Linked DNA regions of Homo sapiens. The protein of the gene in region 3 interacts with the protein of the main gene of each other region in a pairwise test. Each region holds a gene or a part of one and is shown on either strand. Other genes may lie near its edges.

The links.
Region 1: the proteins of TMEM167B (region 3) and SACM1L interact in binary tests that used the Homo sapiens proteins (3 or more experiments, as listed by UniProt).
Region 2: the proteins of TMEM167B (region 3) and SEC22B interact in binary tests that used the Homo sapiens proteins (3 or more experiments, as listed by UniProt).
Region 4: the proteins of TMEM167B (region 3) and AGPAT3 interact in binary tests that used the Homo sapiens proteins (3 or more experiments, as listed by UniProt).

Annotation. Positions count from the first base shown.
Region 1 is NC_000003.12:45,706,245-45,714,081, forward strand, and holds part of SACM1L (phosphatidylinositol-3-phosphatase SAC1), read left to right. Parts: intron 1-535; coding exon 536-663; intron 664-3,253; coding exon 3,254-3,403; intron 3,404-6,892; coding exon 6,893-6,952; intron 6,953-7,801; coding exon 7,802-7,835; intron 7,836-7,837.
Region 2 is NC_000001.11:120,166,180-120,174,016, reverse strand, and holds part of SEC22B (vesicle-trafficking protein SEC22b), read left to right. Parts: intron 1-5,067; coding exon 5,068-5,177; intron 5,178-7,837. UniProt on the Homo sapiens protein: SNARE involved in targeting and fusion of ER-derived transport vesicles with the Golgi complex as well as Golgi-derived retrograde transport vesicles with the ER.
Region 3 is NC_000001.11:109,085,796-109,094,074, forward strand, and holds the start of TMEM167B (protein kish-B isoform 1 precursor), read left to right. Parts: upstream 1-4,968; 5' UTR 4,969-5,077; coding exon 5,078-5,087; intron 5,088-5,864; exon of another isoform or gene 5,865-5,953; intron 5,954-7,094; coding exon 7,095-7,226; coding exon of another isoform or gene 7,227-7,287; intron 7,288-8,279. UniProt on the Homo sapiens protein: Involved in the early part of the secretory pathway.
Region 4 is NC_000021.9:43,979,847-43,987,683, forward strand, and holds the end of AGPAT3 (1-acyl-sn-glycerol-3-phosphate acyltransferase gamma), read left to right. Parts: intron 1-1,142; coding exon 1,143-1,341; intron 1,342-2,457; coding exon 2,458-2,546; 3' UTR 2,547-7,746; downstream 7,747-7,837. UniProt on the Homo sapiens protein: Converts 1-acyl-sn-glycerol-3-phosphate (lysophosphatidic acid or LPA) into 1,2-diacyl-sn-glycerol-3-phosphate (phosphatidic acid or PA) by incorporating an acyl moiety at the sn-2 position of the glycerol backbone.

The DNA.
Region 1 (7,837 bases), on a different chromosome or scaffold from region 3:
ATGATGTTGTGATGACTCCTTGATTCCTGACCACTCATCCTTGTAATATTGCAGCAGCCAGTTAGGTATACTGCCCCAGCACATTTCTCTACCATTTAGAGAGAGACATGAAGGACATAGGAGTGGTGTGGAAGGGACATTGCCCTGTAGTGTCAGATCTCACGTCCTGATGCTTTAAGCTGCCTGCTGGGAAATGATTAGCAGAGGTCTGTATCCCTTGGGGGTGATGAAAGAGAGAAAGAGAAGTATTTTCTGTCTCTACTTTCCATTTACTAAGACAAATCCTTTGGTTATGAAAAGCTTTTGCTTTTATCTTTTTTGAGAAAAACATGACCTTTCAGTAAGAATTTTTCTAAATAATATGCTGACCTTTCTATTCATAAATTGTAAGGTTGCTTTAAAAATGGGCCTTTTATCTGAGTGGCACAATATAGTCTCATTCTACTAGCCTTTAAAGTTAAACAATAAGGACTCCTATTTCTACCTTTAGAGTTACTATTTTTATAATTATGTGTGTTTGGCTTGCTTTTTGCAGGTAATTATCTTATAGTCATTACCAAAAAGATAAAAGTAGGTGAATTTTTCAGTCATGTAGTCTGGAAAGCAACAGATTTTGATGTCCTTTCTTATAAGAAGACAATGTTGCACTTAACTGATATTCAGGTAAGAACTGGAAATTGTTACTAATTGCAGCGCCCAAAGAAGTAGCATGGGCTGGGGAGAGGAGGGTGAGGGTGTTGTGGAATACAAAGAATGCTATAATTATTTTAACAACCTATAGAGTAAGATCACTCTACCTACTTTTCTACCTAGGCATAAAAAATATTTTTTAAATCATTTGTTGCTCTTGTTTTTTTTTTTTTAAAGATTCAGTTCTTAAATTATGCAATTTCATATGGAGAGAAGGGAAAACAGAAATGCACGGGTACTCAACACCAGATTTAACTTCATATCCTCTTTGTAAAGAAATAAAATATAAATACCTTTGAAGTTCTACTCCTCTTAACTCATTCCCTTCTTTCCCAGAGAGGTTTTCTCTATTTTTACCACATGTGAATGTAAGTGTGTGTGTGTGTTTATGAAATGTGTATATATTCTTTCAGGCAGTTTTCCTTTTGCACTATTCCTGTATGCACAGATTTCAGTAACCATAGTTTAGTTAACACCAGTACCCAAACAGCATGGCTTAAATTTCAGTTACTCCAGTTTATTAACTGAAGAATTAACCCACCAAAGATGAAGGTGCAAAAAAACAAAAAGCAACAACTCTGGAAGAGAAATTGAAATTGAACATAAATGGAGCATAGAAGAAGTAGCTGACCATGGGAATGCTGACACTATTCACCATTCAAGGGACAGTAGGTATGCAGCCAGAGGTCCTGGTGCAGGCGAACTGACCGACATTAATGATGGAGTGGCTGTGACGAAAGGGATGACAGTATCCCAGAGAAAGTGATGCCTGCAACAGACTTCCCATTAAAGGAAACCTTGGAGATATTTCCCAACATTGAAAGTGCAAAGGATAAAATGTCAGAAGTTGGTTTAGACTTAGGAAGGTGTATGACAGTTCACCAGGGATAGAAGAAATATTCTGTATCTTAATCTATATGACAAGAAGGCGGCAAGCACTGTTCAAGTCTCTTGATAAATTTTTTTACAAAGAAAATATTTTTTATTCTCGGTGTTTCTAATGTTTTAAATTATAGTGTGCTAAATATTAGTTTTACAATTTGTTCATTTATGCTTATAATTTACTATATATAACTTACAAGTTACATCTACAACGTAACTATATAAGTTAATATCTATAACTAATATCTATAACTTACAATAGAGTTTTTAATGTTTTGACAAAAAAAATTTTTAAAGGTCATGAAACAGTCATAGTTTTTACAATTGACTGTTAAGATAGCTTAAGATTATTAAGATGAAAATAACATGGTAATTTTTACATTCCCACTTTACAAAGTAAAGACTGCCTGTATTCATATTTAAACAGGATCTGTTTTTGCTCGGAGTGTGTATGAAACTTACATGAATGGCATTGCCCTGTTCTGATTCTTTGAAACTTACTTTTTAAAGTCAACATTGTTTAGAGATATATATACCTGTTGAGAGTGATTGTTTTCTTAATGTAATTTTAGTTACATGTTTGCTATTTAAAAATTTTAAGTTGTATTTTTACACCCAATTTATAAGAATGTTTCTAGAAGAAAATATATTATTCTAAAACATATAACTTAGGATAAACATTTTAAAAAATAAAATTATAGCACTGCCTACCTGAGTAAAACTACAGGATATGCTTTTTATACTTTAGAATTTCTTTTTTATTATATATATCAAGAAATATATATCAATATCTTCATTCTCTACTAGGCATATTTTAAAGAAATAAAAACAGCTGTATTTATTTAATAGACCAGTCATATTTACTTAGACAATTTCTTCTCGATTGTTATTCTTTGTTGTCAAGCTGTGTAGCTAATTTTAAAAACATGTCTGAGCACAAATAAAAAATTTTGTATATGTAGATTTGTAACATGTAGATTAACAAGTTAATCATTTAGTAATGATTAAACGTTACCAAACATTAACAATTGTTTTTTAAAACAAGGATAAAAACAAATGTCAATCTTAGTATTCATTGGGAAAGCTAGTTAAAATGGTTTCCCAAAAATAAAGATAAATATTGCTTTTACTGGACTTTTTAATCTTTGTTTTAAAGAAAAAGAATTCCATTTTACTTCTCGTCCATCCCAAACCAGGGAACGTTTCTTGAGAATGTGGATGATGTTAGTATCTTGTTATTTGCTGTTTGCATTATTGGGCCCGTCGTAAATTTATGTGTTTTATTTGTCGAAGATAGCTATGCTAACTTAGCAGGGCTGTTGTGAAGATTAAAGGGAATCTTTGGAAAATACCTGGCACACAGTAGGTCATAACCGAAGGTGATGTTTTGTTAAAACTACTCTTCTGCCTTTGAGAATAAAATTTGTAAAGGATACAAAGGGGAGGAGTCCTACCTAATCAAGTTACCTAATAGTACCCTACAGTGTTTATTGAGTATCTTCTGTGTGTCAGGAACTGTCCTACATCCCAGGGAAATGGCGAGCATCCCCCTCACTGGCTCAGTCCTTGTGCCAGTAGTCTTTAATGAGACTGGACTTAACAGGATTTAATTTGTATTCTTTTCTCATGCTGGCAGATTCCTTTTCAATTATGAGCTATACTGATTTTTCTTTGTTTATAGTTACAAGATAATAAAACCTTCCTAGCGATGCTAAACCATGTCTTGAATGTGGATGGATTTTACTTTTCAACAACATATGATTTGACCCATACTTTGCAGCGGCTATCCAACACTAGTCCTGAATTCCAAGAAATGAGTCTCTTGGAAAGGGTAAGCTTGATCTTCAATTATTTTTATTTTTAGGTTTTTAAAAGGGACATGTCTCTGTTTCATGCATAAAAATTTATATTGATTTTTCTCAGTCCTGGCTATCTTAGAATCATGTATGAGGCTTTGAAAATATACCCTGTTTTAAATATACATCACAATCCCAGTGTGTGAGTCCTTGAATCTGTGTATATATACAGCCAGAATTGAGAATCACTGGTGTAGATATTCAGAAATCTTTGTATAAACACACATGTAAGTTATTAGAGGAAAATCTTTCAGAATTTGTATTTCTGCATAAGTATTACCAGGCTACCAAGTGCTAACTCTCAGATGTCAAATCTTCAAACTAGCATTGCATTCATTTGTAATTTCTTAACTCTCAGTGTTCGGTAGTGTAGCAGTTACATTAGCAGTGTAATTAGGCTTATAAAATTCATATTCTAACAGTTGATATTTCTTCTGTAGTGATGCTTATTTATAATTTTTATAACTAAAAATGTAACAAAAGTCACTAGAACTTGGAAAATATCCTTTTAAGGTTTTTTTTATTTTGCTTTTTTTTTTTTTCTTTGAGACAGAGTCTCACTCTGTCACCTAGGCTGTAGTGCAGTGGTGCGATCTCAGCTCACTGCAACCTCTGCCTCCTGGGTTCAAGCAATTCTCATGTCTCAGCCTTGTAGGTAGCTGCAATTACAGGCGTGTGCTAACACGCTTGGCTAGTTTTTAGTAGAGATGGGGTTTCGCCATGTTGCCCAGGCTGGCCTTGAACTCCTGGCCTCAAGTGATCCACCCACCTCATCCTCCCAAAGTGCTGGGATTACAGGCGTGAGCCACTGTGCCTGCCCAGTCTGCCTTTTTTTTTTTTTTTTTTAATATACAGTGAATATATCTTTAAAATTAGGTTTCATATGATCTCAACTTAAAGTTTCTTTTGTTCAGGAACCTGGATGATTGCTACCTGAATTTTTTTTTGACACACCTTAGAAGTGTTTAATGAGAAGACAGAATTTAAAAGGTCGCTCCATCTTACTTATTAGGTTGGACAATGTGAAGTCGCCAGTAATTGACCATTTTTGACCAATAAAAATGGTTATTTCATGTGGTTCAACCTAAATTAATATTTTAGTTGACTGGCTTTTTTGGGTGAGATTTTCAACTCTAATTTGGTAAAATTGTATGTAGGCTTAGATGGAAGTTTAGGTGCAGGCTAAGCATTCAAGAAACTTGGCTTTTAACTACAAAGAGACTTGCTTTTAAAAGCAGTTGCTACATTCTCCATTTGTTTATGAAACATCTCTACAACGTCAGCCATGTACCAGGAACTATACTAGCCCCTGGGGACCCAGAATGAAGCTGTGGACCCTGTCTTGTGGGAGCCTACAGTCTGCTGGGGAAGTGGTAGTCAAAGAATGGTTGCTATAATGGTGATATGTACCAAAGTGAGGTGGGATCCTGAAGGAATGAGGGTCTTTGCCTGAGGTTGTCAGGGACAACTTTATAAAGTAAGGTATCTACAGAGGACAGTAACTTTACACAGAAAGGTAACTTTTGAGCTGAGACTTGATGAAGATTTGTTGGTCAGGTGACAGTGGGCCGGGGGGTTCCAGGCAGAGGTGGTGGCAGAGGCTAAGCTGCAGAAAAAGCCATCTCATCTGTTGGGATGAGATGGGAATGTTTTGTCAGCTAAACAGAAAGTTAGCCAAGTGTAGTGGTTCATGCCTGTAATCCCAACACTTTAGGTGGCCGAGGCAGAAGGATTGCTTGAGTCCATGAGTTCAGGACCAGCCTGGGCAACATAGGGAGACCACAGCTCTACAAAAAAATTTAAAAATTAATCAGGTGTGGCGGCACGCACCTGCAATCCCAGCTACTCGGGAGGCTGAGGTGGGAGGTTCACTTGAGATAGAAGCCACAGTGTGCTGTCATCACGCCACTGCACTCCAGCCAAGGCAACAGCAAGACGGTCTAAAAAAAAAAAGTTAATGTTAACATAGGGAATCATAAAAGTGATAAATGGAACATATATACCCTAAATATTTTAACTTAAAACCTAAAAGTTTTACATTGGTCAATGTTTTTATGTACGGCCATAGGATTTTCTTTGTTTTTGGTTCCTTGATTCTGAATTGTCTTCCCTGTGTAAATTACATCCATAGGGCTTTCCCATTTGGGCCACTTTAAAGACTTTGACACTTACAGAGAAATCTGTGTGCAGAATCCTGTACATTTTTACTATGTTCTTTTATATTTTTTTAGTTGCCACTCCCACTCCAAATTCAACAGCAGTTTTGTTTTAGCAACTTGCCTCTTATCAAGTTACATTCCAAATCATTTAACTTTATAGAAACAGCAGTGTGTTTTTCATCTTATTTCATTGGTTTATAAAATAGTTAAACTATATAATGATGAAATAATAATAAGTATGACTGGTACAAATTCAGGAACACACACTTGAATCTCAGGAAGTGCGATTCAGCTGGTTGTGGTCAAGTGCAAAAGCCATTCCCTGTGACTTTTAGAGTCGGCGGTGCTGGTGGTTCAGTTGGTATGCTTCATAAATAGAATTGATTAATCTACTGAGTAGAGTCAGTTATTTTGTTTGTTTTTTCTTTTTTGAGACAGAGTCTTGCTCTGTCACCTATCCTGGAGTGCAGTGGCACGATCTTGGCTCATTGCAGCCTCCACCTCCCAGGTTCCAGTGATTCTTGTGCCTTAGCCTCCCCAAGTAACTGGGACTACAGACACGTGCTACCACGTCTGACTAATTTTTGCATCTTTAGTAGAGACATGTCGGCCAGGCTGGTCTCGAACTCCTAAGTCTCAAGTGATCCGCCTGCCTTGGCCTCTCAAAGTGCTGGGATTATAGGCATGAGCCACCACGTCTGGCCCTAAGTAGAGTTGATTAAATATAGATTGTTGAGGGAGCCTCTTCTGTATTTATGAAAGTTGGAGTGGCCAGAGATGAGATCAGAGAGTTAATTAGGGGCTGCCAGATCCTAGGACTGATTAGGCCATGCAGAGATTTGGTTCTTTAGATGACAGAGTCATTGAAGAATTTTGAGCAGATAGGAGACAGGACATGTTAGAGAACTCCTGCTGGTAGCATTGTGGAAAAATGAGTGGCGAGGGCTAATGCCTAAACTGGAGGCAAGGGAAGGTGTGTTAGTTAGGCTGGAGTCAGATGTTGGTAAAGATAGTGGGAGTAGAAATGTAAAAAATATGGATTTTGAAGGAGATTTAGTACTTGACAATTAAATGTAAGGGAAAGAAATACCGTAAAACTCCTCCCAGGTTTCTGTCTGGCCTGAGACAATGAGACAGAAATGCCCACAGGAGGTACAGATTTGCGGGGGAGATGTATTTTGTTTGAGGCCTGTCAAAGAAACTGGCTTCTAGCCATCAGAAAGAGACATTGATTGGTGTAGTTTTCTTTCTGTAGAAAGTAAGCTTGGCAGGAGATATTTTATTAAATTTTAAAACTTCTCTCAGGCAGATCAGCGGTTTGTATGGAATGGTCATCTTCTAAGAGAACTTTCTGCACAGCCAGAGGTAATGTACACGAAATAAAATCTGCTTAATTGTTACAGTCCAAGCTTTAATTCAATGCATGCTATAAAGTGACTTCCTAATCACCAAGAATTTCGAGAAACAATTCTAATTTAACTGTTTATAACTTACAAACTTGGATCAGGTCTACCCTGTCACATCATTCTAGGTTGAAGAAGCCTAACTATTTTACTCTGATCTTCTATAGAAGCCTTAAATAAAAATACATTGCTTTGTCTAACTAAGAGAGATACAGGGGATCTTGGTACATGGATAATGGAGAAATGAGGGGCCAGGGCCAAGTTTCCTGGCCAAGGGGAGAGCTCTTTTTTGTCTTCCTTTGGGGATGAGACTCCCTTCAGTCACCCAGGAGAGACATGCACAGGCACCGCCCTCTTCTGTCCTTTGTCTACACATATGAGGTATAAACAGGGAGGCCCAGCTAGGGAAACATGATATATTATTGAATCTAGGTAAATAGATGTGTCTAATTGCTTTATTTCTTGTCATTTGCTATGCTTTTTTTGGAAAAGTAGTTTGAGCTGCAAACAATTAGCATGGGATATCTTTTCCCTGGAGGAGTGAAGTTGTTGTAGGCAAAGACTGAAAAGGAGGTAAACATTCTGTAACTTCATGTAGCTTTATTAGTGTTCCAAAATCTGTGAATATTCAAGCTCAAATGATTGTAATGCATACTTAATGTTACATTAGAGAAATCTTTTAAAAATTATATTACCCATAAGTTTACTACCTTGTTATGTTTGTATATTACCTCCCTATGTGTAAATATTTTTATATAATGCTTATTTATTTTTAAAGTATATTTATTCTAAATATATATCTTCATTTCAGGTTCATCGGTTTGCCCTTCCAGTGTTACATGGCTGT
Region 2 (7,837 bases), about 11 Mb from region 3:
TACCCTCTAGATGCCAGTAGTACCACTACCCTTCCCCACTTTGTTTGTTTGTATGACGACAAAAATATTTCTAGACATTGCTAAATGTCTCATGGGGGCAAAATCACCCCAATTGAGACCCAGTGGTTTTTATTAAGTTTTTGTCGACTCAGACAAAAACTTAATAACCACTGTACTTTAGTGCCTAACCACTGTACTTTACTGCCTTGTTCTAAGGCCTTTTAATGATGTCTTACCTCTTAGGAGTCCAGGAATAACTTTTTAATAAACAGATATCTCAACCAAACAGTTTTATATTTAATCACCTTAATTGTCCAGGCCAGATAATTCAATGTATTTTCATTTTTGTATGTTTTTGTTTTCTTATCAGTGTACTTTCAGTATTTACACTGATAATAGATATCATATTTTAGGTATTTACTAGGTGCCTGTACAAGCTGCCATATTACCGAAGATGGACAGTTATTCAGATAATACAATAGAGAGTAAAATTTACAAAATAATGTAGACAGAGTATTTTATACAGGGTGTTTCCTCTGTGTTTAACTGAAAATTTAGACTTAGGGCAGGAAGAGAGATGAGCTTTTCTTCTCAAATGTGGACTCCCTAACTGATACCCTGTTTATCTTTTTTCCTCATTCCTTTTATGGCATGTTTCTCCTTTTAGGATTTTTGCAATTTCTTTATCTACCTTTCTGTTCTGCCTCAAAATTATTGTATTTTCTTTCATTTTCCTCTGGCATCGTGAAGGGCAGTCCAGACTTGAAGAAAGTGTTAGATCTCACCAAATAGGCAGCAGGAAGCTCCAAGAAAGCAGATAGATAACATGTTATACAGTTAAATTGTCTCACGCTCCCAATCACTGAGGGTTGATTAATCCACTTACTGTAACTGCTTTTAGAGGAAAGTGGTTGGTTCTTGGTGCTGCTGGTCTTTGACCAGCTGAGTTCAGTGGGTATTGATACCCACTGAACTCAGCTATGAAAATGATAAAGAGCTATGAAGGCAAAAGTTGTTATTGATACAACTAGTTGTTCAGCAGTCTTAGGTGACAGCAACGAAAAGTATTGTGGTTGTGTGTCTAGTTACTACCTTCTATCTTTTGTAATATATAGATCCAAATCCTACATTTGCTGTTGGATAACCTCAAATTTGTTTCACAGTTTTTCCAGTTATTCTGATCCACTGCATTATTGGATTACTAATAGATATCTCATAATTATATCATATACAAATTTCATTAATCTTTTCTAGATGAAGTAGAAAACACAATGAGGATATCTAAATATTTTTAGGTGGACTGGCTAACTGTGGGCCCTTTGTGACTTTGATCTTGAAAGCAAACTAAAGGTCAGTATGTAAAACAGTGGTTAGGTTGTTTTGTGAGATCTAGATCAGAGCTGCCCCATGGTTTCTTGAGCATTTCCAATGAGTTAGAATTACATAGTAAGACTTCACCTAAAAGGTGGATCTACTATTGAAACAATTTCAATTATAGAGTTAGGGTAGCATAATGCTTAGGAGTAGGGGCTCCAGGGCCAGATTGCCTGCATTCAGATCCTAGTTCCTCCCTTTTTAGCTTAGAGGCTAAAAAGTTTGACTTCTCAAGTAAAAAATTGACATAATAATTCTAATCACCTCATGAAGAATAAACGAGTTAAATAATGTAAAGTGTTCAGAACAGTGGCTGGCAGAAAGTGAACACTTAATAATTTCATTTGATCATTTCTGAAGAATCTTTTCTAATTCCATCTTGCCTTTCTTTTTTTTTTTTTTGAGATGGAGTCTCACTCTGTTGCCCAGGCTAGAGTGCAGTGGTGTGATCTCAGCTTACTGCAACCTCCGGTCCCCAGGTTCAAACGATTCTCCTGCTTCAGCCTCCCGAGTAGCTGGGATTACAGGCACCTGCAACCCTACCCGGCTAATTTTTGTATTTTTAGTTGAGATGGGGTTTCAGCATCTTGGCCAGTCTGATCTTGAACTCCTGACCTCATGATCCACCTGCCTTGGCCTCGCAAAGTACTGGGATTACAGGCGTGAACCCCCATACCCAGCCTCATCTTGCCTTTCTTAAAGGTTCACAGATCAGAATTGCACATAATCGATACACTGGATGCAAATATGTAATGAATGAATGATTTTTCACATTACAAAATTAATTTGTGCATATTGTAGAAAGTTCAGTAAATACATAAAAGCAAAATGACCAAAATGTTAACAGTGTTTATTAACTATAATCTGTACTCAAATTATATCCATTTTGGTGGATGACCTTAAACATATGTATGTGTGTATAACATTAAATAATAGGTAATACCGTAAGACTGTTTCACCTAATTTTTTCCACTTAACAGTGTTTAATGAATATTTTCTCATATCATTAAACTCTATACAGCATTGTTTTAATGGCTGCATAGTATTCCATTGTATGAATATGCCAGAAAGATTATTATTTAACCATGAAGATTGTGCTAGCATTGTGTTCTCGAGGATGGTAATGCTAACTGAACCAGCATGGTAAGGTGTTGGTTGGCATACCATAATCCCTATAAATACATCCCCAGTGTTGTATATTGGCAGTCTTTACATTGCTGTTTGCAAATTCCTGAAATTGCAGAATGCTTTTGGCCAGTTTCTTATAGTTGATACAGTTGTTAGTCTTTTTCTCAGGTTACAGTAATGTTTACAGTGCCTCTTGTAAAGTCAAAGGATTTGTACCAATCTGAGTGGCAATTTTTTCCATGTTTCTTCAACTAGTCCTTTTAAGATTCTCACCTGCCTTTAGCAAAGAACATATATTTAACACCTGTGGTTGCAGTTATGTAAAAAATACCGATATCACAGCCCCACCTCCGAGATGCTGACTTAATTGGTTTGGTGGTGGAGACTGGGCATAAGTAGTTTTGTTTTTGAGATTTCCCCAAATGATTCTATTGTGAAGCCAAGGTTGAAAATCACCGATCTATGTTGATATTATTTCTTGGCACTTGAGCCAAGAAATAATAAAAATATTTCTTTTTTTTATTAAAGAATTTTAAATTAAATTAAATTTAATAAATTAATTTTATTAAATTAAAGAAATTTGCATGCTTTTTATCTACTCTTGTGGGTTCAGATCTCTTCAGAATGGCACTGGGGAAACAAAAAGATTGGTAAGTACCATTCAAATTTAGGAAAATAGAATATTGTGCACTAGTTCTTATTGGCTAAAAGCATATGACAGTATTCACTCTTACTGGCTGGCCATATATTAGTAGTACTGTTTAATATGATAATTTTGATATAATTATTATAAAGTACTGTTTAATATATAAAACTGTACATACATACAGACATACATATGTTAATATAGAACTATTTCTCAAATATATAACAAATATATGTCAATAAAACAAATAATTGCCATAACAGTGGTATTAAACAAGATAAATCTACAAACTAATACCTCAACTGGACTCTGCCTATCTCCCCTGGTTCACCTCATGCTTATTCACCTTCTTATTCTTATTGAAATTTCCAGTTCACCATTTTTACATATAGCTTAGAATCTTATTATCCTGTAATTGTACATTTGCTGATCTGCCACTTTATCATTTTATTGTTGCTTCCTTGTTTTTATTATCAGCTTAGCAGTACACTATCTACAATTTTAAGATATCACTTTGTACTTTATCAAAGTTAGACCTCAGATCCTGGGAGACCCTAGCATAAATACTTTTCTACTTAAATATTTAGTTATTAAACATCTGCCAAAGGGAGGCTATTCTTTCTATGTAAAATAAATAATTCCAAAATAGGATTATTTCTTTGCATCACATGGCAGTGTCCTAGTCTGGTTTACTATACAAAATACCATAAATTGGGTGGCTTATAAATGACAGAAATTGATTTTTCTAGTTCTGCAAGGTGAAGATCAAGCACCAGCAGATTTGGTGACTATTGAGGGCCTATTCCTGGTTCATAGATGTCACCTTCTGGCTGTTTCCTCACATGGTGGATGGAGCAAGCTAGCCCTCTGGGGTCTCTTTTATAAAGGTACTAATCACATTCATGAGGGCTCTACCCTCATGACTTAATCACCTCCCAAAGGTCCCACTTCTTAATACCATCACTTTGGGGGGTTAGGATTTCAACATGAATTTTGTGGGGGATACCAGCAAACATTCAGACTATAGCTGGGTAGCTGGCAGAAAGCTCCCCTACCCCACATGTGGATGGAAAAACAATGTCTATTTGCTTCCCATTCTTCAGGCACTTCCTTTCCCTGTTGGATCTAGTAGATTGGAGATGCATGGTTTTCTTCTTTTGAAATGACACTGCTGGTTTTTCCAGTAGATTTGCCCCCTCTTTTTAACAAAAATAATTGTAAAAGCAGTTAGAAATTGTTCAGGAAAATATTACCTGTAATTATAACATGTGAATGCTATTATTTTCATTTTTGTCTGCATATATCCCTCGATATTCAAACTTTTGCTGTCCAAACTTGGGAACCAAATAGATTTCTTCAGTAAAGGGTATCTGACATCCTAATCTTTGTCTCTACCCTTGGTCATTTTTATGTAATTGCAGTCAAAGTGTTCGTAATAATTTGCAGTCACTAGTACACACATTTAGTTTTGTTTAAATGCTAAAAACTGTAACACTTGTGGAAGGTTCTGCTGGATATTCCAACATAAAAATGAAATTCACCAATCTTGTTCCTAGGATATTCCCCTGAGTATAGCACATGCTGTGTAGTTCTGTGCCAATAACTGCAAATGAAATGGGTTAGGAGGAGAGTACTGTCCTAATAGTGGAAAGAACACTGGATTGAAAGTTAAGAGTGCTTAAGTGTATTTGAGGTATATGCTTTTGCTTCTTAGCAAATAACTAATGCGATCATCTTGAAGAAGTAGGGGTTAGGTCTTCCTCTGTACTCTGAAAGTAGGTTGTCTTTCCTCCGTTAAAATGAATCTTACTTACCTGTAAATGAAGGACCTCATTCAGAGTGTCCTCATAATATGATGCTTCTCACTAATTGATACAGCATTTTGTGGAAAATTCTTAAATGAAGATGTCTTCTTTCAGTCTGGCCGGGACCTTCAACAATATCAGAGTCAGGCTAAGCAACTCTTTCGAAAGTTGAATGAACAGTCCCCTACCAGATGTACCTTGGAAGCAGGAGCCATGACTTTTCAGTGAGTGTAATCTTGATTTCTTTATGATCATTTAAGTGAAATACAGTAACAGAATGCCTGATAAAAAATAATAATTTTTAAAAAGTAAAGATTACTTAAAAATGTTGTCTTTTGGGAGGAGCAACTTCTCTGGCTCTAATTCTACAAAATGGACATCTTGTTGGTTTTTTCAGCATGCTTACAGTAATTTAACCTGTTAACATGTGTCTATGCTGTGCCCATCATGCAATAATAGATAACTTCTTGCTTTAGGACTGTCTTGGAGCCAGATATGTGTAGGTTAGTACCCTTGCTCAAACATTTCCTAACAGTGTAACTTTGAACAGCTCACATAACTTCTCTAAGCCTCAGTTTCCTCTATAAAGTAGTGAAAATAAACATAGGAGGTTTGAGAGGATTGTGAGGGAATCTGTGTGTATTACTTAGCATCTTGTCTGACACACATGGGAAGAGTCAATAATTATTAGTTATTATTATTTTGAAAAAAGAAAATTATAAAAGATAAGAGCATCTTAATCAGTGGTTATAAATGATACAGCTGATAGAGGACTCAAAGGAACATTATTGGATTTTAAATTATCTACAAATAATTGGTATTTAATGTTTAATACATGCCAAGTTTGAAGCTGACAAAATAGGAAGGATTAAAAAGGAAAAGAGTACAAGAGCATCAGAGGAAAATAAAAACGGATTAGTTAAATAATCTTTGCCATTTTAGGGACTTAGATAGTAAGATAACTTAGGCCAGGGAGGAAGCTGCTATGTTTACTTTTAAAAAACAAAACAAAAATTCTCTACCTATAAAAGACAAGTAAAAAGTACATCAAAACAAAAATAAAACCCTAGGCAATTGGCTAAGAAAATGTTGGACATTATGTTTTATGATGTATTAATTTTTATAATATCTGAAATATTTTCTAGAACTCTAATTTTCAACACCAAAAATAGTCACTCACTTAATATCTAGTATCCTCATTTTCACCATGGTTTAGAGAACCAAGACCTAGGAAAGTTCTCATGGAATTGAGAAGAGATTTTCTTCTGCCTGATTCCTTTAGGACATTCATAATCTCATATCATCCTTTATTTCCATCCAAGAGCTATTAAGGGTTTATTCTTTGCCAGACCTTATATTGAGTCCTGCATTTAATGTCCATACCTTTTAACACTGTTCTCTTAGTAGAGAGAGAGACATATACTCAAACAAGTATACTATAATATCTTAATTGAAAAGATGTTGTAAATTAGATTTAAATGAAATGTTTTGGGAACAGAGAGAAGGAAGGAACAAATTCCCATTTGTAGGGGGTAAGTTTGAAGAAACGGGACAGAGGAGGGGAGTATATATAAAGAAGTTTCACAGAAAAAATTATGGTAGAATTGAACATATGAAAATGAACAGGATTTCTCCAGGTATTTAAAAGAGCATTAACGGTTAGAAAAAACAATATAAGCAGAAGTCCACAAATATGTAAAGAACCTAGCATGTTGGAGAACAGTCCGCCATTTGGTTTATTAAAATATATGATAGAATGTTGCTTACACTTGTTTTGAAAGGCTGTAAATATAATACCATGGAGTATGATTTTATTTTGTAGGTATTAGGGAACCCTTAGAGTTTGTAAGCAGGGTAATATGGTCATCTGTAGTCTCTGGGAATAAAACTGATGGTATAGAAGATGGTGTAGACTAAAAGCAAAGAGACCAGTTAACTCAGGTGCCCAAGCAAGGAATAAGACAGCTGTATTATTAATATTATTTTAAGGGGCCTGAGAGATCATATAATAGTCTTTATCCTTTATGGAGCCCTAGGATGCCTCAGGAGCCACATAGAAAGGGCAAGGATGGGAGTATATATAATGCTTTGGGCCCCTAAACTCCTCCTTATGTTTTAAATTTTTCCCTTTTATTTTCAGTTGACATGTAATAATTATACATATTTATGGGATACAGAGTGATATTTCAATACATGTATACAATGTGTAATCAAATCAGAGTAATTAGCATATTCATCACCTCAAACATTTATCATTTCTTTGTGTTGTGAACATTCAAAATCTTGTAGCTTTTTGAAAATACGTGGTAAGTTATAGCTAGCCATATTCACCCTACAGTTCTGCAGAACACCAGAACTCATTCTTCCTATCCAGTTGTAATTTTTTATCCATTAACTTGCCTCTGCCCATCCTCCCCTTCTCTCTACCTTTCCCTACTTCTAATACCCACAATTCTACTCTCTACTTCCATGAGCTCAAAAATTTTTTTTGGCTCCTACATATGAATGAGAACATGCCATATTTATCTTTCTGTGCATGACTGATTTTATTTAACTTAATGTCCTCCAGATTTATCCATGTTGCTGCTAATGATAGAAATTCATTCTTTTTTATGGCTGAATAGTATTCCATGGTGTGTGTGTGTGTGTGTGTGTGTGTGTGTGTGTAAAAAACACTTTTAAAATCCATTATTCTCTTGATGGACATTTCTCTTGATTATCTATCCATAGATATTATGAATGGTGCTGCCGTAAACATGGGGGTACAGATAAGTTTTTAACATAATGAGTTTTTTTCCTTTGGAGAAATACCCAGCAGTGGGATTGCTAGATTGTATGGTAGTTCTGTTTTTAGTTTTTTGAGAAACCTCCATACTGTTTTCTA
Region 3 (8,279 bases):
CGGGGTTTCACCATGTTGGCCAGGATGATCTCAATCTCTTGACGTGATCTGCCTGCCTCGGCCTCCCAAAGTGCTGGGATTACAGGCATGAGCCACCGCACCTGGTCAACTTTTTGATTTTAGAATATAAAAGTCTTGATACAACTAATTTTGAAATAGCCTGGTGAGACTCACTCTATTCAATTAAAAAAATGTAAAATATCTTTTACAATATGAAAAAGAAAAAATATGGTGGAGGGAGAAAGAAGAAATAAATTTAAGAGTGGGAGAAAAAAAGTAGGAAGAATAGAGACAGACGTGGAAAATGAAGAAAAAGTAAATTTTGAGTGGAGTTAAAAGAAAACTGTTTAATCATAAGATACTGTGTGCATTATCACTGCCCTTTAGAAATAGTAATTTGAGGCCGGGCACGGTGGCTCATGCCTGTAATCCCAGCACTTTGGAGCCCGAGGCAGGTGGATCATGAGGTCAGGAGATCAAGACCATCCTGGTCAACACGGTGAAACCCCGTCTCTACTAAAAATACAAAAAATTAGCCGGGCGTGGTGGCGGGCGCCTGTAGTCCCAGCTACTTCGGAGGCTGAGGCAGGAGAATGGCGGGAACCTGGGAGGCGGAGCTTGCAGTGGGCCGAGATGGCGCCACTGTACTCCAGCCTGGGCGACAGAGCGAGACTCTGTCTCAAAGCTAAAATAAAATAAAATAAAAATTGGAATTTGCCACTGGGTGTGGTGGCTCACGCCTGTAATCCCAGCACTTTGGAAGGCCGAGGCGGGCGGATCACGAGGTCAGGAGTTCAAGACCAGCCTGGCCAACGTAGTGAAACCCCATCTCTACTAAAAATACAAAACTTAGCCGGACACGATGGCGCATGCCTGTAGTTCCAGCTACTCCGGAGGAGAGGCAGAAGAATTGCTTGAACCCAGGAAGCAGAGGTTGCAGTGAGCAGTGATTGCACCACTGCACTCCAGCTTGGGCAACAGAGTGAGACTTTGTCTCAAAAAAAAAAAATTGTAATTTGCCAATTCATCACTCCTCCTGGTTTTTCAGCTTTGATTTCATCCTTAATTTTTTTTTTCTGTTTATGAGACACAGTCTTGCTCTGTCTCCCAGGCTGGAGTGCAGTGGCGTGATCTCAGCTTAATGCAACCTCTGCCTCCCCGGTTCAAGTGATTATCCTGCCTCAGCATCCCGAGTAGCTGGGATTACAGACAGACACCACCACACCCAGCTAATTGTTGTATTTTTAGTAAAGACAGGGTTTCACGATGTTGCCAGGCTGGTCTCCAACTCCTGACCCCAAGTGATCCACCTGTCTCGGTCTCCCAAAGTGCTGGGATTACAGGTGTGAGCCACCATGCCCAGCCTTTACATTTTATTCTTTTTTTTTTTTTTTTTGAGAGGGAGTCTCACTCTGTTGTCCAGGCTGGAGTACAGTGGCACAATCTCGGCTCACTGCAACCTTCGCCTCCCAGTCTGAAGCGATTCTCCCTCCTGCCTTAGCCACCTGAGTAGCTGGGATTGGAGGCTCACGCCCCCATGCCCGGCTAATTTTTGTGTTTTTAGTTTTGTGTTTTTAGACAAGGTTTCACCATGTTGGCCAGGCTGGTCTTGAACTCCTGACCTCAGGTGATCTGCCCACCTTGGCCTCCCAAAGTGCTGGGATTACAGGCGTGAGTCATTGCGCCCGGGCTTAACTTTTTTTTTTTTTTTTTTTTTTTTTTTTTTTTGTGGTGGAGTCTCACTCTGTTGCCCAGGCTGGAGTGCAATGGCACAATCTCGGCTCACTGCAATATCCGTCTCCCAGGTTCAAGTGATTCTTTCGCCTCAGCTTCCTGAGTAGCTGGGATTACAGGCACCTGCCACCACTCCCGGCTAATTTTTTTGAATTTTTAGTAGACACGGGGTTTCACCATGCTGGCCAGGCTGGTCTCGAACTCCCGACCTCAGGTGATCCTCCCGCCTCGGCCTCCCAAAGTGTTGAGATTACAGGCGTGAGCCCCTGCGCCCAGCTGATTAACTTTTATTCTAACCTCTGAGAATGACAGAAGAGGAAAGACTTGTCTTTCAGAGTATGACAAAAACTGAAGAGGTTTTCATCTAGTTAAAAAAAAATGGGGAGAAAAAATTATCTCTAAAAAGTGAGTGGCATGAGCAAAAATGAGAAAGCAAAGACTGTAACTGAAGAACATAGTCTTTATAGACAAAGCTTAAAGCCCATATAGGGAACAGTGGAAAATACTATTGGAAGGCCTTGAGTAGCAGGCTAAGGACTTAGGCATTATTCAGTAGGTAGTGGTTGCTGTCAAAGGAAACACCAGTGTGGTATGGAGGAAAATTTTCTAGTCCTGATTTCAGAAGGCTGGAATTATTGTGCCAGTGTAATACTTGGCAGTCCTTACCCTAAACCTTGGTTTATTTCTAAAACAGGGGTAATCAGGCAGTTGTGAGGGTTAAATAAGATCATATGACAAGGTGTGTTTGCTTTGAAAATGTCAAAATGTTATAAAAATGTAAGTTTTCATTGTTGTGAGGACATAATTGATACTTAAAGACTACCGATATAGCAAAATTACTAAGGTGATGGCTGTAGGATTACAAGAGGGGCAATTTTTTTTCTTTTCTTTGTTTTTTTTGAGACGTAGTTTCACTGTTGCCCAGGCTAGCGTGCTATGGCAGGATCTCAGCTCACCGCAACCTCTGCCTCCCCAGTTCAAGCGATTCTCCTGCCTCAGCCTCCCAAGTAGCTGGGATTACAGGCATGTGCCACCATGCCCGGCTACTTTTGTATTTTTAGTAGAGACGGGGTTTCTCCATGTTGGTCAGGCTGGTCTCGAACTCCCGACCTCAGGTGATCCGCCCACCTCGGCCTCCCAAAGTGCTGGAATTACAGGCGTGAGCAACCGCGCCCGGCCAAAGGGGGGCAGTTATTATTATTATTATTATTATTTGAAATGGAGTCTCGCTCTGTCGCCCAGGCTGGAGGGCAGTGGTGCTGTCTCGGCTCACTGCAACCTCTCCCTCCCGGGTTCAAGCTATTCTCCTGCCTCTGCCTTCCGAGTAGCTGGGATTACAGGCGCACGCCACCATGCCAGGCTAATTTCTGTATTTCTTTTTTTCTTTTTTCTTTTTTTTTTTTTAAGTAGAGACGGGGTTTCACCATGTGGTCAGGGTGGTCTTGAACTCCTGACCTCAGGTAATCCGCCTGCCTCGGCCTCCCAAAGTGCTGGGATTACAGGCGTGAGCCGCGCCCGGCCAGCTGCTGCTGTTTTAGACAATGGTTGATGAAGGATTCGAAGGCCTAAACAATAGAGCTTTTGTTCTGTTTTGTTTTTGAGTGGTCCTGAACAGTTCTTTTGGGCAGGGGAATTTGTCTGTGTGTGAATGTGCAAACATATATATAATCTGAGTGGCTGCCTGGCCTTGTCCTAGGTTTTGTCCCGTATATACGCCGTCTTTTTTTTTTTTTCTTTCTGCATGTATGTATATTTTCTCAAGGCATCTGTCCTGCACTAGACTTTGGCTTGTCTTTCCAGGCCAGCTTCCAGAGGATGCTTTGGCAGTTTTCCCTCTGGGTAACCAAGCAGGCTGCAGCCAGCAGATGGCACTGCAGCAGAAAGGGGCAGAGTCCCTTTAGGCCCTTGACAAGCACGGCGGATTAGTAACCGTATAATTTAACCCTCCAGTTAGCCTTGGAGGACTCGGTGTCGCACTTCCGCCCGAACTCTAATAAAGCGGGCCGAGTTGTGTGCAATTAAGGATTTCAGTATGCAAATCTGAATCTGTACTTTTGTCTCCTCCACCCCACCCCCATCATTAGACTGGCAATGTCTTTTGTCACGTTGTCAAAGTGTCCTCAGAGAAGCGGTGTCTAGATATCGCCGATTTCTGGTTAAAGTGGCTGAAGTGATCCCAGCATTAATTAAATGCAGGAGAATCGAGATTCTCCTGATAGTTTAAGGAAAAGAAAAATTCACACAAGCAAACGGGCAACCCTTTGAATGTTTTCCGACGACGTGGTGCTTTAGGATCTGAAAGATGCGACTTGGTTTTTGTTGTTGTTGTTGTTGTTGTTGTTGTTTTTGAGACGGAGTTTCCGCTCTTGTTGCCCAGGCTGGAGTGCAATGGCGCGATCTCGGCTCACCGCAACCTCCGCCTCCCAGGTTCAAGCGATTCTCCTGCCTCGGCCTCCCGAGTAGCTGGGATTACATTACAGGCATGAGCCACCATGCCCGGCTAATTTTGTATTTGTAGTAGAGACGGGGTTTCTCCATGTTGGTCAGGCTGGTCTCGAACTACGATCTCAGGTGATCCGCCTGCCTCGGCCTCCTAAAGTGCTTAGATTACAGGCATGAGCCACCGCGCCCGGCTAATTTTGTATGTTTAGTAGAGACGGGGTTTCTCCTTGTTGGTCAGGCTGGTCTCGAACTCCGACCTCAGGTGATCCGCCTGGCTCGGCCTCCCAAAGTGCTGGGATTACAGGCGTGAACCACCGCGCCCGGCCGCGACTTGTTTTTGTTACAAGGTTCCTCATTTCATTTGCAACGTTCAGACGCAGTCTGACTAGATTTCCATCCGGAGTAAGGAAGAGCAGCTCAAGGGCAGTCACGGAGGCCGCAGGTGCGGCTTCTTCACCCGCGGTGCTGGAGTTCTCTCAAGTGGAAGCCCAGGACGATGAAAACCTCATAGGTAGGCTGCTGCTTACACACAGCAGCCGCCACGGCGCAAAATAAACTACAAAACTACAAGCCTTTACCTTTTCAAACACACTGACGCGGGCCAGCCCCAGCCCTACGCCCGCAGGGGCACGCAGAAAAGACTTAGTTACCACGGCCAAGTACGAAGCCTTCGAGATAGCGTTCTTCTTACCCTACGTAAACACGCAGTTTCCCGAGCTCGACAATCGGCTAGCCACTCCTGATAGCGTTCGGCGCTCGCCTCTCGGCCCTTGCTCCTGCGTACTACGGCTTCTTCCAGTCACCTCGGCCCGGATCGGGAAGTGTCAAGCGGGCGCTCCCCCATCTCCGCCGCTATTACCACTGAACCCGGACCCCCTACCCAGGTCCAGGGCCAGCCGCCATGACGAACGGTGAGAACTGATGCCCTGAGCGGAGGGTGGGAGTGAAGGACGAAGGGAAAACGTGGCGGGCGGGGCCGGGACTGACGTGGCCGTTCTCCCCGCCCCCTCCCAGCCCGGCCCCCCTTGGCCTCTCGACGCCCCTAACTTCTGTACCCCTATACTCCTCTACGGGTTCCCCCTTCCCATATTCATCTAGGACCCCCAGTGCCTCTTATGCTCACACCTCGAGTTATCTATCCCTATGCTTTGCTTTCCCTTTTCTTTTTCTTAGTTCTTTCTGGCCCTTGGAGAGGTCAGTCCCAGAGGTACTACTGCTATTTAAACCCGGGGAAGAGAGAGGCTCCTCCTCCCAGCTCCCTGCGTTCTCATGCTTTCGGACCGTAGTTTTGTTGAGAGGGCCAATAAATGACATAGAATATCAAGTCCCACACTTTTGGGGTTGCTGGTGAATGTAGACCCCACAAAAGCTTCTTCTTACGGAAAAATACCGGAAAGATTTCTGATTTTAAAGTCCTGGCGGGGTGATCCCACGTGGAGACCCTGACTAGTGTTGCAAAGGGTGGATTTAGACACTGCCTCTTCTAGATGATGAGGCAGTTTATCTGACCTAATTTTCCAGGCCTCTTCAAACACTTTATGAATTCTGAATTCCAGAGGAGGACAGGAAGGAGGGCCTTCATGATTTTTAGTGTCAACCTTACAGGAAAGGAGAAGAGAAAGCCTTTTAGGCATTACGATGATTTGAGGGGCTCCGGAAAGCATTTCTCAAAAGTACTTTGTCCATAGACCTGGCACTGAAGACTCGAATTTAACCTCCTTGTGAATTTTGGCATTGTCTGCAGAAACTTATGAGAGAAAAGGGGTAGCACGTGAAGGTATAGTTCCTCAGAAAACCTTAGTGTATGTATTAATTTGCTGGACCCTTTCTTAGTGACAGCTTAGCTGTGAGACAGTTTTACTGGAGGAAGAGAGGTAGTGTGATCTAGAACTGGCAGACACTGGTTATATATAATATTCATTTGGAGCTTCCTGGGAAGTCAGAGGTCTCAGGATACTAGGCACAGTAAGAAAAGGGAATTTACCCAGAGGAAGACAGAATCTGAACCAGGAAGTAAGACAGCAGTTTGACACGGTAGTTGCTGAATAAATTTTAGTCATTCTTCCCCCATTTTGTGGTCCAATATCTTCTTGTTTTTTGCAATTAGGTGATTCATTGTGCTTCCCTGTACAAGAAATAAGCTTGGTTTATGTATTTAAGAAACAGAGCTAAGAAGTTAAAGCTTTCTATGTTGAAGCCTTAGATACTTTTTCTTTGTTTTAGAAAAATCTGTTATTATTCTGGCAGAAATTCGGTTTGTTAAGAGTATCATCCATAAAGTGTAAGATAATGATAGGAAAATTGTAGTCATGTGGATTCTTACTCTTGCAACTTTCATTAAGCTTAATTTTTTGCCTTAACATATTCTTCACCAACAGTTGCACATCTGACAGTTTTGGCTACATATCTAGCTCTCCTTTATCATATGAGTGATTTATAACAAGAACATGTTAAATTCTCTGTGCTGAGTCTCTAAGGATTCATATGTCTCAATCTATTGCCAACACTAGTCATTCCTGGGATGCTAATTTCTGCCCAGGATTTCTACTTCTTGAAAGGTGAGGGGAAGGACCAGTGACATTTTAGTAAAGGGGATGTAAAAAAAAAAATTTTTTTTTGAGTTGGGGTCTCACTCTGTTGCTCAGGCTACAGTGCAGTGGCATGATCGTAGTTCATTGCAGCCTCGAACTCCTGGGCTCAATTGATCCCCCTTCCTCCTACAAGCAATTTTTGGGAACAGTAAAATAATCGTGTTAGTCCCAGGATCCTGGCTCCCCCTTGTCAAGTGTCAGTACTGCCTGTTGAGGTTATTATTTTGTTATTATGTCACACACTATCTTCCTTAGAGTTCTCAGGCGGGATCACAGGTCCGACGCTAGATCAGTACCTAAGGTTTTCTTTTCTTCTTTATTTAACAGTGTACTCCTTGGATGGGATTCTGGTGTTTGGTTTGCTCTTTGTTTGCACCTGTGCCTACTTCAAGAAAGTACCTCGTCTCAAAACCTGGCTGCTATCAGAGAAGAAGGGTGTTTGGGGTGTGTTTTACAAAGGTGAGGCCATGTCTGGACAGGGAGAAGAGACTGCCATCTCTGGACAGTGTGGAGCTACAAAGTAGGGAGTACAGTGAGCTGGGATTATATTTGGTTTCATTTTTAGAAAAAAATCCCTCCGATTGGGTCTGAGAGTCTGGAAAATTAATCATTCTCCAAAGTTGAGGGAAGAGGTAAAAGTTAAAATTTGCTGGGTGTGATGGCTCATGCCTATAATCTCAGCACTTTGGGGGGCCAAGGCAGGAGGATTGCTTGTGTCCAGGAGTTGTAGATCAGCCCGGGCAACACAGTGAGACCCCATTTCTACAAAATATACAAAAATTAGCCAGGTATGGTGGCACGTGCCTGTAGTCCCAGTTACTCAGGAGACTGAGGTGGGAGGATTGCTTGAGCCTAGGAGGTTGAGGCTGCAGTGAGCCATGGTGGAGCCACTGCACTCCAGCCCAGGTGACAGGGTGAGACCCTGTCTCAAAAAAAAAAAAAATTATTTAAAAACATAATTGTCTATTTTAGCATCCAGATGATTTTTGTATTCTCCATGGAGTAAAAGTATACACATCAAATCATTTTAGGCTGGGGTGGAATTCCTCCCTTCAGTGGGAAAAAAATTTTTCTACGGAAAATTTTTCTTGATTTTCTGTAAATGGTACATTGGAGTCTGTTTTAAGGTTTGAGTTAATTAACTCAGATGCTTTTTTGTACTTTTTATTTGAGGCACATTCATTTGGAATCCTATCTACCTAAATTTTTTTTTGAAAAAGGACAAAATATAAACAAACAGTATATTCACCTAGACCCTAAAGCATAAGGATAGCATTTAGAAACATCTCAGAGGCCGGATGCGGTGGCTCATGCCTGTAATCCCAACACTTTGGGAGGCCGAGGAGGGCAGATCACCCAAGGTCAGGAGTTCGAGACCAGCCTGGCCAACATGGTGAAACCCTGTCTCTACTAAAAATACAAAAATTAGCCAGGGAGCCGGGCACGGTGGCTCACGCCTGTAATTCCAGCACTTTAGGAGGCCAAGGTGGGTGGATCACCTGAGGTCAAGAG
Region 4 (7,837 bases), on a different chromosome or scaffold from region 3:
CACAGTGTGTGGCTGGCAGGGGGCACCCCAACCCCAGTTTCCAGCAGGAAGCTGAGAACCATGAAGAGATCAAAGAGATCAACTAGAAAAAATATCTTGAAGCCAGTGAGCTCAGTGATAACAGTCTCCAACCATCTTTAAAAGAGAGCGGGTCGGCCAGGTGTGGTGGCTCACATCTGTAATCCCAGCACTTTGGGAGGCCGAAGTGGGTGGATCACGAGATCAGGAGTTCGAGACAAGCCTGGCCAACATGGTGAAACCCTGTCTCCACTAAAAATACAAAAATTAGCGCAGTAGTGGGCACCTGTAATCCCAGCTACTCAGGAGGCTGAGGCAGGAGAATCGCTTAAACCCGGGAGACAGAGGTTGCAGTGAGCCGAGATCGTACCACTGCACTCCAGCCTGGGCGACAGAGTGAGACTCCATCTCAAAAAAAAAAAAAAAACAAAAAAAAACGAGAGAGTTGATGGTGCCCTTCACTACTTCCCAAGCATCCTAGAGTCCCACGGGCTGCCCCGCCCACGGGCAGTGGCTGCGGAGTGTCTGCTCTATCAGGCATGGTGATTTCCTGCCAGCCTGTGCCTTTGACATTCCCACCAGAGGCAGAACCTTCTGCAGGTGGCCCTGGCCAGGCTCCTCTCTCCTCCCAGCTCCTCATTAGCCTCCTTTGCCAGGCTAGGAAACCGAGGTATGCGAGGTTAAGGAACTTTCCTTGGGCCGTGCAGCTGAGAGTGCGCTTTGCAGGGATTTGCATCCAGGCCGCGGGACTCACACAGGCCACACCTGCCACCCCCACTGCCTCTGGCTCGTGGGAGGTGTGGGATGTGGCGGGTGGCCGGGGCAGTGCTGGGCAGGCAGGTGTTGGTATTCACAACGTTGCTTTCTTGACCGATTATTTTCCTGGGAGACTTCCTCAGTCAAAGGGTTGATATGCTTGCGAGCTCTCGATGCACGCTATCAGATTCTCCAAAAACGTACAGCCAGCTTCGCCTGCACCTGCAGCTTCTGTGATTTGTGCTCTTAATTGACGTGGCGCTTTTTTTAGGTTGAGTCGTTTTTCATTGCCAACAATCTTCTCCTGCATTGAAATAATAGCTTGTAAAGAAGCCTCACGCTTCCTTTTTCTCTGTTGACTCTTCTAGGACGCGCTCCAGGAGATATATAATCAGAAGGGCATGTTTCCAGGGGAGCAGTTTAAGCCTGCCCGGAGGCCGTGGACCCTCCTGAACTTCCTGTCCTGGGCCACCATTCTCCTGTCTCCCCTCTTCAGTTTTGTCTTGGGCGTCTTTGCCAGCGGATCACCTCTCCTGATCCTGACTTTCTTGGGGTTTGTGGGAGCAGGTAATGGACACTGTCGCTAACAGCTCACACTCTGACGGGCCTCACAGTATCAGCCACAGGGTCCGGGACCTGGTGACTCATCACAGTGGCTGTGGGAGGCAGGGGCCTGGCTGTTATGGACCCTGGAGCCAGGATCCCCCCACGGCCTGCGGGCCTCAGAGCCTGGATTCTTGCACTGAGCTGAGGGTCGCCTCCCCAGAGAGCCGAACGGCCGCCACCTGGCGCCATCCCCACTGCAGCCCCACTGGCTGGCGCCCTTGAGGATGCCGACGAGAGGGTCCCCGAGAGGGTCCCCAGCCCCCCTGTCTGCTTTTGGGCTCTTAGGGGTCAGGCTGGGCTGGCCATTCGGGAGGTTTAAGCAGGACATCATCATTCAGCTCCTCCCCATTGACCCCCAGTGACTTCCCCACTGTGTGCCCACCCCAGGCACAATGCCAGGCCCACCACGACTCATCAGCTAGCCTGGGGCCGAACAGACACCCAGCCTGTCCCTGTGGTGAGCTCCGGCGCCCACCCACACCCCGTAATTGAGGGGTCTCTGTCCGTGGAGACACAGTCCGTGTGCATCGCCCCGTGAGCCGACTCCCCAGGCCCAGCAGCTGGGCCAGCTCCTCCCCTGCTCCTGCCGCCCCTGCCAGGGGCCTTGGTGGGAGGGGTCCTGAGAGGCAGTGACTGCCACCAGCCTCTCCCATTGGACTACGAGATGACTTGAGGCCACCCACAGAGGACAGGATGTGACCTGCTTACATCCGAGGGTCCTGCTCGTCCACCTCTGTCACCTGTTGGGTTTGCAAGGCCGAGCTGTTAGAATGCCCCGAAGCCCTTCTGCTCCCACCAGCCAAAGACCCAGAGGGGCAGGCAGGGCAAGGTCCACGTGTCCACCTGCCTCGGACCCAGCCGGTCAGAAGACGTGCCCCTCACCCCTGCCTGAGCAGACCACGGTCTGAGAGGGCTGTCTCCCCGCGGGCCACACCTACTCACTGACAGCAGAGGCCACTGGGTGCGGGGCAGAGGGACAGGGTCTGGGGCAGAGGAAGGAAGCCCCAGTAACACGTTTTACAGCAAAAAGGCAAAGTCATCCGTCTCACCTCTTCTCTCTCTCTCCTGTCTTGAAAGCTTCCTTTGGAGTTCGCAGACTGATAGGAGTAACTGAGATAGAAAAAGGCTCCAGCTACGGAAACCAAGAGTTTAAGAAAAAGGAATAATTAATGGCTGTGACTGAACACACGCGGCCCTGACGGTGGTATCCAGTTAACTCAAAACCAACACACAGAGTGCAGGAAAAGACAATTAGAAACTATTTTTCTTATTAACTGGTGACTAATATTAACAAAACTTGAGCCAAGAGTAAAGAATTCAGAAGGCCTGTCAGGTGAAGTCTTCAGCCTCCCACAGCGCAGGGTCCCAGCATCTCCACGCGCGCCCGTGGGAGGTGGGTCCGGCCGGAGAGGCCTCCCGCGGACGCCGTCTCTCCAGAACTCCGCTTCCAAGAGGGAGCCTTTGGCTGCTTTCTCTCCTTAAACTTAGATCAAATTTTTTGGTTTTTAATCAGTTATCTTGGGAACTTAACCTGGCCCCTCACCTCTTCTGCACCCCCCGCCCCCGAAACTGTCTCGTAATGAATTTCTGCTGTCCTCCTGGGAGTGGACGGCCGGGTCCCGTCCCCCGGGAGCATCGCTCGGCTCAGCACCTTGGCTCCCAGTGGGGGCCCCGTGGAGGGCGCCCGTAGTGATAAGCACACCGGCACGAACGTCAGGTCCATTCCTCGAAGTCGGAGCCCTCACTCTGCCCTGTCCTGGGGCTGGCTGAGGGCGAACGCCCCACCTCACTTTCTAGAGCCCTGTCTGTCCTAGCTCCTATCTGACCTTGTGTGTAAATACGTACATCTGTTTTTAAAGTGGATGGGCCCCTGAGAACTCAGTGAAATGCAGAGTTCTCCATGCACCTAAAGCTCCTTTGTCGCTCTCATGGCTGTCAGATCCTGGTCCCTCCACACTGGGTGCTGGGGAGGGAGGACCCTCGGGGCTACCGCGCGCCCCCCCATCCCACAGATCAGGAGCCAAGGAGGGAGAACAGGGCAGCCTGTGGGACTCTAGGATGCTTCAGAAGAAGCGACGGCACCGTCAACCCTCTGTTTTTTAAAGGTGGTTGGAGACTGTTAACACTGAGCTCATTGACTTCTAGAGATTTTATTTTTACTGGTTGATCTCTTGGTGGTTTTCAACTTCCTGCTGGAAACTAGAGGTGGGGCACCCCCCACCCCCCAGCCTCGCACTGTGTCCTTGGGGAAGGCCCGCCCCCATCCTGGCCGGTGTCACTGTGGCCCGGCCACCCCTGAGCGCCCAGCTCCCTACCTCCTGGACGTCTCTGAGAGTCCAGGCAGAGCAGAGGGCAGCGCTCGGCCGGTCATGCTGGCTCCCTTGGCCTTGCAGCGAGCCCCTGGCCCACGCCGAGCGAGGGATGCTTCTCCCTACAGCATGTCCACTCCCCCGGCATGGCCAGGTGGGGCCCCTGGGGCAATGGCAGTGGTAGAACGCTCAACTTGGTTGCGGTACCATCAGCCCACCTGCATTTGGCTTTCGACTTGCTTGTTCTAAGTCACAGCGCCCTCATCTTTTTAGCAAGGTAAAAAAACCAAAATGGGTGTTATCTCTGATATCTTGAAACCAGCGTTCTGAATAGAGGTAGGTTGAGTTTTCTAGGGGAAAACAAATGGAGAAAAGAGGCATGAAGAAAAGTAAACCGAGAACATAATTAGGCATCGGGCCTAAGTGTCCTGGGGAGATTGGAGGGGACGGCAGCGTTCTGCATGATGGAGGCGCTGCCGGGCCCCGGGTCTGTGGGGGCCGTGCTCTCAGGGCGTGTGCGGGACGCCACCTGTGCACACCTGCTCAGAGCACGGCTCCTCGCAGGGGTGAAGGGGCAGACCAACGAAACCAGATGAGACCAACGACACCATGCGAGACACGCTTGCAGACACTGTTGTTTTGGAAATGTGCTTCCCTCCATCTGAAATCTCATCCCTCCACCCGCCCACTCGGGCAGCTGTGCCGTGGGCAGGGCATGCGCTCCCCTGGCTGAGCACCCCAGAGATTCTCCTGCACCTTCCTCATGCCGCACGCTGCTCATCCGTCTCCATGTGTGTTTAGATCCATGCCATTCACTGACTCACTAACACCTGCAAAATCTTTAAGGAAAAAAGCTGAAGGGTACGACCATGCACATATGTGACCTGGAAAATGCAAATTTAGATCTTTTATGATTTAATTATTATTGTTTCCCATAGAAGTTCCCTCCCTTTGAAATTAATATATAATGTATAAATTCTGCACTGAGCCATGGCGGAGCTGGGCAGCCCCTAGGTTAGAGTGGAGACGGAGGCCCAGGCGCAGGGGTCACACCTCATCTGGTTTCCTTCCCATCTCACAGCTTAGCTTGTGCTTCTCAACACCAAGTCTTTAAGAGCAATAAAAACTACACCATGAATGTTTGAATTTTTTTTTTTTGGGGGGGGGAGGGTGGATTTTGCTTTTCATCCAGAAGGAAAAGGGGAGGAGAGCTCCTTTACATTTTTTAAATTAAATTCATAAATCCCAGAACAGTCTTTTTTTTTTCTTTTTCCTTTACACCCTACTTCTGAGCTTAATTCAGTTGATGTTATGTCCAAATTCAGGCTGAGTGCTCAGGCTGAAGCAACTCTGTAGCCCACAGTCCGTGCTGGCCACTGTCGGGGTGAGGCACATTCTAGGCCTGGCATCGCTGATGCCCTCTGCACCCAGTCCTTGAGCCAGGCCGAGGACAGGAAGGGCATTGCTGGCCTGTAGCTCCTGTTACCCACCCAGAGCCAGGCGCCACACTGGAGGCTCCCAGGCGGGAGGGCCCAGGCCCACCCACGGGCGTCTGGCCGGTCAAGCTCCCAGCCTGGGCCGTGGTCTCCTGGGGACGCCGCTGGCCTCCCAGCTTAGGCCCAGGTGCCAGGTGTCATGGGGTCTCCTGCCCATCTTCCCAAGGATGCCATTGCTGTCTTCATCGTCTTCCCCCGTGTGAGACACTGGTTGTCTGGTACTCGGCGACAGTGTACCAGACGCGCACCCTATGTGAGGTGCTTTAAGGTCCCTGTCCTCAGGAAGCGCAGTCTGGTGGAAGAGATGAGCGCTGAACAAATCACTAAATAACACAAAACAACAATGTAAGCAGCACTTTCTTGTGTAAAAAAAAAAAAAAAGCACGTCCTGTCGATGAATTTTGAGTCTCTCTGCCTTGCCTGTCCCGACTCCCTTTCGCGCACCGTGGCATGAGAATCTTTCCTCACGCTGTTCGTTGCGGTATTGCTGAGCATTGATGTTGATTTGAAGGAAAAGCCGTGGTTGGACCCAGCTGTGTGTTTCACTCACGTGCAATTGAGTAGCTGTTGCCAGGCTGTCCATGCCTGTTGTGACTACCGGTTGGGGTCAGATTTGGGGTGAAGAATGAGTAAGTTTCTGCATGCTTTGTCTCTACCTGAGACACTTCTACAACAAGCCAAGTATAATCTCTCCAGCCCTGCAGATTTTCACCTGACTTGTTCAGCCCCATGCGTAGACTCCCGCTGCAGGCCTCTGGCCTGTGGCTCACTGCATGCAGCCCCTGGCGTGCAATACTAGTGCTCCACGGCGCGATGTGCTTCTAGCCCTTGCACTGCACCTAGGCTCAGGGTTCAAACGGCCAGCCCGAAAAGCCTGCCTGCCTTCTTTCTGGAAACAGCACGTCCCCGGCCGTGTGCCTGCCCCTTTCTCTACTGAGCTAGTCCCCAAACCAAAGGCAAGCCCCCTCGGGCCTCGGGGGATGGGGCCGGCCACACCCCTGACTCCGCCCTGGCTCTGCCCCATACCCCTGCCGTGGGGCCGACCTGGGGGATGCAGACATCCGGCTCCGTATTCCTGCCTATCGGGGCCAGGATGCAAAAACAATTTTTGCGTAAAAGATGTCACACTGATCTGCTGGAGTGGGGTGGACACATGAATTCAGTTTTATCATGAACACTCGCCACTGGCTGCTTGTTAATTCAGGGATAATGGTGGCATTCTTACAAACTGCTCGGGAAATAGAATGACGGGAACACTTTTAGGGAGCCCAGGAAGTTACCAGGGACATTGGTGTCGCCGGCCCAGGCAACAGCAGCGTACGCTTTTCAAAGATCATTGAGTTGTCTTAGAATTTGAAGCTGTGTAATGACAATGTCACCTGGAGTTCGTCTCCATTTCTTAACTTTTTGTTGCACAAGTATTTGGACAGAAGTCGAACTGTGAATGAGATACTGAAATGCACTAAATTGTATTACATTAAACTGGAGTTACTTGATACAATGAAGAAATGCATCTGATCTACTTGTATTTATTGTCTCAGAATTGTACGTTGTGACAATCAAATGTTACTTGCCTAAATGCCAGGAAATTCAACTGGCCTTTTAATCAGCAAGATCGCCAGCAAGTACTGTAACTGTAAAGGAAAATCTCTCTCTCTGGAGAACCCACACAAACCATTGACCTGAGTGCGCATGACAGCCACTGGCTTCTTTTTCTATGATTGAAAATCTGCCATCGCTGACTGTTGGCCAGTTTCAAAGGGACCCATTGTATACAGGGTGCAAATGTATTATACGGATGTTTCCTTTTGTACACTTCATTTTTACAAGTTTTGCTACTCACAAGCTTTATGTAGTGGAGGATAGAGGTATTTTTGGTCTTTAGAAGCTTGTCGGGGTGAGGGCTGCTAACTTACACTTCAGAGGCCTGTGTCCCAAAGGCCTGGCTGCGTTTGCCGTGCTGTGCGAGGACCTGTGTACACAGGCAGGTGTGCGCCTGCCCGAGCGCGAGTAGCTCTTGTGTAGTGGTGAAATGCTGCAGGCATCTGTTTATTAAAATTGCTGCTGTGAAAGACAGGGATAAAATATCCACAATATAAGAGAAAGCGACTCCGTGCCTCCTTCTGTTTCTTCGTTTCCAGTCTGCATAGATGTCTCCAAGGGGAAACCAGGGCCACCAGGCACTCCTGTCCCATGGGGCCACCCACCTTCAGAGCCCACTCCCACGGGCTCTGTTTCCTTGGAGGCCATCCTGCCGATGGCACTTTTCAAGGCCCTCCCTTCCCTACGAGTTGCTTTCTGGGAGGGGAAATTGAAAAGGAGAGCGGTCACCTGGCAAAAACACAGGGGAAATCAGCCAGTCCACAAAAATACGCAAAATGACCTGATGATGTCCAAAAAAGGGTTTTAAAAGCGATCAAGGACAAAAGGTTTTCCTAAGTGGCATGTATACATCCAAAACTACTCTTTTTTTGTAAAAACATTCATCTGTGGAGAAAACCAAGGAACCCCTTTCTCTTCTTTATTAAAAAGCAAAACAAAAACTCTTGTTAGAACCAAAAGATATTCCGAGTTCTCGTTTCGTGTCTTCTAAAAATAAGCTAAGCTGAAGAGTCTGGGTGTCCACATGCTCCTGGGAATGGCCCTGGCAAC